Linked DNA regions of Homo sapiens. The protein of the gene in region 1 purifies or fractionates together with the protein of each later gene. This does not show direct contact. Each region holds a gene or a part of one and is shown in the gene's direction. Other genes may lie near its edges.

Region 1 (2,952 bases):
CCGAGGCGGGCGGATCACAGTGTCAGGAGTTTGAGACAAGCCTGACCAACATGGTGAAACCCCGTCTCTACTAAAAATACAAAAAAATTAGCTGGGTGTGGTGTCAGGCTCCTGTAATCCCAGCTGAGGCAGGAGAATTGCTTGAACCCAGGAGGCGGAGGTTGCAGTAAGCCAGGATCGTGCCATTGTACTCCAGCCTGGGCGGCAGAGCGAGACTCCGTCTCGAAAAAAAAAGAAAAAACGAGACCATGGGTACGAGGCCTTGGGGTCCATTTTAGGGTAGCCTTTTGGACTTTCTTCTAAGGGTAATTTGTGTGTTTCTACAAAAGCTTTCTGGCTGCTGTGTGGACTGGCAGGGCTAGAGTGGAAGCAGGGAGACCAGTTGAAAGGCCATGACAGTTGCCAAGAGAGTGTGGTGATGTGAATTAGACTGCTAGCAGTGGTGATGGAGACATGTGGATAGGTTGTAGGGATGCTAGGAGGGAGGACTAGGTGGCAGAGTGGCTGTGGGCAGTGAGGACAGTGAGGAGTCAAGGATGCTCCAAGTTTCTGCATGGGCACCATGGGAGGACCCAGAGCCATCTCTGGGATGAGGAAGACCTGGGAGGGACAGGTGAGGGGGCAGCTGGGAAGCTCAGCCTGGGGCATGCTGAGCCGGGACTAGAGATGCAGGGCTTTGAGGCAGAGCCAGGCCTTGAGGGTGGATAATCTGCAGGGGACAGTGGGAAGGTGGACCCTGTCTACGAGACCCTGCGCTATGGCACCTCCCTGGCACTGATGAACCGCTCCAGTTTCAGCAGCACCTCTGAGTCCCCGACAAGGAGCCTGGTATGGTGGGCAAAAAGGGGGGGTCTTTTGGGGAGGGGTGTCTGAGCATGACAGTGGGCTCGGGGGCTGAGCCCTCTCCTCTCTCTGTCCCTAGAGTGAGCGGGATGAGCTGACCGAGGATGGGGAAGGCAGCATCCGCAGCTCTGAGGAGGGGCCTGGTGACAGTGGTGAGTGGTGGTGGGCATCAAGGGCAGGAATGGGGTACAATGGAGGGTGCTCCCTGCTGCCTCTCACCCTTTCCCTCTCCTGCCCCTAGCATCTCCAGTATTCACAGCCCCAGCAGAGAGTGAAGGGCCAGGACCAGAGGAGAAGAGTCCTGGACAGCAGGTGAGCCTGTACTGGCATTGGCCCGGAAGGTCAGGGTGGGAAGCGGGTGTAATTTCTCCTTGCCATTGATTCATAGGGGGGCAAGAGCATGGTGCGTGGGGATTCACTGCTTCCTCACTTATCCTCAGGGATGGGCAATGCCAGGATGAGAGGGCATGGGAGGCAGGAGGAGTTACCCTCCCACCCCCAGCCCACTGCCCATTGCACCCATTTCTTCTCTCCCAAAGGCAGGCAGCCCCAGGGTACAGCAGGCAGAAGGGGGCTCCCCTCTCCATTCCCGTCCCAGTGCGCTTTGGGGTGGGTGAGCATAGCATGTACGAGGGTCTCACTTCTCCCTGCCGTTGACCTAGGACTCACTGTGTCCCCTCACAGCCCCCAGGGTAGCACACTCAGAGCGAGTGGAGAGTGGGGGGAGTGAGGGTGCTGCTTTCCGGTCACCGACCCAGAGATTCTCCCGCAGCTCCCCAAAGCCACCCTGCGGAAGGATGTGGGGCCCATGTACTCCTACGTTGCACTCTACAAGTTTCTGCCCCAGGAGAACAATGATCTGGCTCTGCAGTAAGTCCTCTTTGTGACCTGGCCCCGCTGGGCAGCTCTGCGCTCCCAGACCTTGAAACACAGTGTGAGGGGGGCCTTCAGGAACCTTCTTGCATGCTTGAGGCTGCTGAGCCCAGACAGGAGCTGGAACTGCCCAGGGTCTAAGAGTGACTCATGCTAATGTCGTGTCTCCCGCCCTCTGACTGGGCTGCCCAGCGAGTGCCTGCTGTACCTGTGGTCACATGGTGTCCTCTGAGGGCATCAAGAATCCTCTCCCAGCGGGGCGCGGTGGCTCACCCTTGTAATCCCAGCACTTTGGGAGGCTGAGGCTGGCAGATCACTTGAGGTCAGGAGTTCGAGACCAGCCTGGCCAACATAGTGAAACCCCATCTGTACTAAAAATACAAAAATTAGCCAGGCATGGTGGCAGGTGCCTGTAAACCCAGTTACTCGGGAGGCTGAGGCAGGAGAATGGCTTGAACCCGGAAGGTGGAGGTTGCAGTGAGCCAAGATCGTGCCTCTGCACTCCAGCCTGGGTGACAGAGTGAGAGTCTATCTTAAAAAAAAAAAAAAAAAAAAAAGAATCGTCTCTCCCAGCTGAGGACTGCAGTGTCCCCCAGGTGCCCAGGGTCTGCTAGGATGGGGAGGGGCACTACTCCCTGCTCCATATGCAACCCTAGCTCTGTCCTCCCCAGGCCTGGAGATCGGATCATGCTGGTGGATGACTCTAACGAGGACTGGTGGAAGGTGACTTGGCAGGGTGGGGAGTGGAGGGACACTGGTAGGCACCCCAGCAGCCCCCACCCCCAATGGGCACTGCCCCCACCTTCTCTCCAGGCCCCAAAGACAACCTCTCCTCCAACCACTGGTCCCAGCCAAAACTAGGACCAACCCTTGGGACATCCTCTCAGTTTTGACTCTCCTTGCCTCAGCTTTGTCCCTCTGCTCACCTTATGCTATTCCTGGCCCAGAAGCCACCTGGCTGGGGGCTGGAATCCGGAGAGCCCTAGATCTGGAGGATGATGGCATTGGTGCTGAGTGGGAACCGGGTCTGGAGAAAGCAGTGGTGGGCAGCAGGGGTGGGGTGTGGCGCGGGTGTTCATTGCCAACCTCATCCCCAGGGCAAGATCGGCGACCGGGTTGGCTTCTTCCCAGCTAATTTTGTGCAACGGGTGAGGCCAGGCGAGAATGTTTGGCGCTGCTGCCAACCCTTCTCCGGGAACAAGGAACAGGGTTACATGAGCCTCAAGGAGAACCAGG
Region 2 (3,500 bases), on another chromosome or scaffold:
GCAATGTAGCAAGAACCCAGCTCTTTAAAAAAAAGAAATTCCAGCCTGGACAACATGGTGAAACCCTGTCTACTAAAAATACAAAAAATTGCCGGGCGCGGTGGCTCACGCTTGTAATCCCAGCATTTTGGGAGGCCAGGGCGGGTGGATCACCTGAGATCAGGAGTTCGAGACCAGCCTGACCAACATGGAGAAACCCCATCTCTACTAAAAATACAAAATTAGCCGGGCATGGTGGCGCCTGCCTGTAATCCTAGCTACTAGGGAGGCCGAGGCAGGAGAATCTCCTGAACCTGGGAGGCGGAGGTTGTGGTGAGTCTAGATTGCGCCACTGCACTCCAGTCTGGGCAACTAGAACAAAACTCCATCTTAAAAAAATAATAATAATAATACAAAAAACTAGTTAGAACTAGCTAGGCGTAGTGGCGGGCGCCTGTAATCCCAGCTACTCAGGAGGCTGGGGCAGGAGAATCTCTTGAATGTGGGAGGCAGAGGTTGCAGTGAGCCGAGATCACACCACTGCACTCTAGCCAGGGCGACAGAGTGAGACTCTGTCTCAACAAAAAAACAAAAGAAAAAAAAGAAAATTAGGCCGGTCGCCGTGGCTCACGCCTATAATTCCAGCACTTTGGGCGGCTGCAGCGGGCAGATCACTTTAGGTCAGGAGTTTGAGACCAGCCTGGCCAACGTGGTGAAACCCCATCTCTACTAAAAATGCAAAAATTAGGCCAGGTGCAGTGGCTTAATCACGCCTGTAATCCCAGCACTTTGGGAGGCTGAGGCGGGCGGATCACCTGAAGTCGGGAGTTCGAGACCAGCCTGATTAACATGGAGAAACCCTGTCTCTACTAAAAATACAAAATTAGCCGGGCATGGTGGCACATGCCTGTAATCCCAGCTACTTGGGAGGCTGAGGCAGGAGAATCCCTTGAACCCGGAAGGTGGAGGTTGCGGTGAGCCGAGATTGCGCCATTGCACTCCAGCCTGGGCAACAAGAGCGAAACTCTGTCTCAAAAAAAAAAAAAAAAATACAAAAATTAGCCGGCATGGTGGTAAGCGCCTGTAATCCCAGCTGTTTGGAAGGCTGAAGAGAATCACTTGAACCTGGGAGGCAGAGGCTGCAGTGAGCTGAGATAGCGCCATTGCACTCCAGCCTGGGCAACAGGAGTGAAACTCCGTCTCAAAAAAAAAAAAAACAAATAAATAGAGAGTATAATAAGAGAAAAAGGATATAGGAGTAACCTATATCTTTAGTCTCTTATCTATAAAATGGGAGAGAGAATACTTATCTGGACTAATTCATAGTGTTATTATATCAGATTGAAATACAGGTATACAAATATTATCTAAACATTAATGCCAAAATTTAAAAAAAAGAACCTAAAGGACTTTAGAGCACATCTATTTCATATTTCAGAGAGGAAGGGGAGTCTCAGAGGTCAAGAGACCATATTCAGTTATGTGCATAATTAAGTAAAAGAAAAATGTACTTGAATTTAACAGATGTGCTTGACTTCTACAAACATTTATCTAAGACAGGGTCCTGACTTGAAGCTACAAATAAAAGGATATTTCATGAATTTGACTTTGAAAACATGGATGAGAATAATTGTGTAAGTGCAGGTTTGTAGCTGCATCATGTGATCCCAGAATCCCTGGTCACTGGTTCTTAATTTGACCTTTGTGGGTCCCTCCTATGAACCCTGATGCACCTCCCCCATATTATTTAATTAGCCTTGTTGCTTCTCCCTCCCTCCACCCAGCACACACTATCTTTTCTTTTCTTTCTCCATTTGGCAAGTAGAATATTCTAATGAGGTGATCTGAACCCACTTCTAGTGCAAACTTCACCTCAGAACCAGTTGTGTGTTTTTTTTTTTTTTTTTTTTTTGAGATTGAGTCTTGCTCTGTCGCCCAGGCTGGAGGGCAGTGGCGCGATCTCGGCTCACTGCAATCTCCGCCTCCCGGGTTCAAGCGACTCTTCTGCCTCAGCCTCCCAAGTAGCTGGGACTACAGGTGTGCCACCATGCCTGGCTAATTTTTGTATTATTAGTAGAGATGGGGTTTCACCATATTGGCCAGGCTGGTCTTGAACTCCTGACCTCATGACCTCCCCACCTCGGCCTCCCAAAGTGCTGGGTTTACAGGCCTGAGCCACCGCACCTGGCCCCAGCTGTGTGATCTTAGGCACATTTACTTCTTGTACTCTCAGTTCCTCATGTAAACTCGGGATAATAATATACGTCTTGCCGATCTGTCATGCTTGTGTCCAGGATCAAATGATGCAACGTGTCATAATGTACACGAAAACACTTTTAAAAGCACCACATGCTCCACAAATGTCGAGTATTATTATTATCCTCATCATGGCTCTGCCCTTCCCTTCCATCCCTTGCCTCCAGCCCTGCTGGCTTCCTTCCAGGATTGTCCTGACAAGTGGCTGCAATCATTTGTTGAGAAGCTTTCTCTGAACAGTGAAATGTCATTCTGGAAGCTGCCCTTGGACTAGTAGAAATCTAATTAGATTATTGGGAGTCACAGAGAGAAAAATTAGAAGCAAAAGAAACTGCATTCCCATGGATAAAAGAAGTATTAGCTGGCAATTGTAGCAAAAAGCACTTAAAGAAGACATTTAGGATCATGGTGACAAAGTGTGAGAGCCAGAGGGAGCATAAGTCTGGAATCCCTTCCTCTTAGGGTCTGTGAATGGAGAAGCCCTGTCCACTGGGTCTGTGACTCCTTCTTCCTGGCATTTCTCTGTCCACTCCTGACAGGGCCCACCTCTTTCTTTCTCCTTAGGCTCCCTGGCATTGGGCAGTGTTACAGTGCACTCTTCTGAACCTGAAGTCAGAATTCCTGAGAATAATCGTGAGTTGGGAGGGGCCATGGAGGGTGTGAGGGTGAGCAGTTGCCGGCCGCCTGGGGATCTAGAGAGCACCCAGCCCAGCCTGCAGTTTGGGGCTGTTCCCCATCTCGTGTATTTGCTGCTGCTTCTTCCTTCGGCTCATTTTGACCCTGTCTGCAGCTGTGAAGTTGTCCTGTGCCTACTCGGGCTTTTCTTCTCCCCGTGTGGAGTGGAAGTTTGACCAAGGAGACACCACCAGACTCGTTTGCTATAATAACAAGATCACAGGTGAGTTGCTTCTCCTCCTTCCTGATTGCCTAGGTTGTGGAGGGATTATCATGCCTGGATTCTACGATCCAGACTTTGTGCCCTTATCCCAGGGCACACCCTGGGGCTGAAGTCCTCATGGCCTTCCTACCCCCCTTTCTGGGGGAAGAGGAGAGCACTTGCGTACCTTGGATGCCCCCTTCATCAGCCTCCCTTAGCTCTCCAGTTCACTCTGTCCTTGCTCTTGCCTCCTCTTGTGGTAGCTTCCTATGAGGACCGGGTGACCTTCTTGCCAACTGGTATCACCTTCAAGTCCGTGACACGGGAAGACACTGGGACATACACTTGTATGGTCTCTGAGGAAGGCGGCAACAGCTATGGGGAGGTC

The links. The genes of interacting proteins can lie anywhere in the genome.
Region 2: the proteins of STAC2 (region 1) and F11R purify together in Homo sapiens (affinity purification with mass spectrometry; one large-scale study listed by BioGRID and IntAct). This does not show direct contact.

Annotation. Positions count from the first base shown.
Region 1 is NC_000017.11:39,212,994-39,215,945, reverse strand, and holds part of STAC2 (SH3 and cysteine-rich domain-containing protein 2), read left to right. Parts: intron 1-715; coding exon 716-828; intron 829-922; coding exon 923-995; intron 996-1,084; coding exon 1,085-1,155; intron 1,156-1,527; coding exon of another isoform or gene 1,528-1,539; exon of another isoform or gene 1,540-1,599; intron 1,600-1,615; coding exon 1,616-1,713; intron 1,714-2,372; coding exon of another isoform or gene 2,373-2,387; coding exon 2,388-2,439; intron 2,440-2,813; coding exon 2,814-2,951; intron 2,952-2,952. UniProt on the Homo sapiens protein: Plays a redundant role in promoting the expression of calcium channel CACNA1S at the cell membrane, and thereby contributes to increased channel activity. Slows down the inactivation rate of the calcium channel CACNA1C.
Region 2 is NC_000001.11:161,000,653-161,004,152, reverse strand, and holds part of F11R (junctional adhesion molecule A isoform 1 precursor), read left to right. Parts: intron 1-2,799; coding exon 2,800-2,868; intron 2,869-3,025; coding exon 3,026-3,133; intron 3,134-3,375; coding exon 3,376-3,500. UniProt on the Homo sapiens protein: Seems to play a role in epithelial tight junction formation. Appears early in primordial forms of cell junctions and recruits PARD3.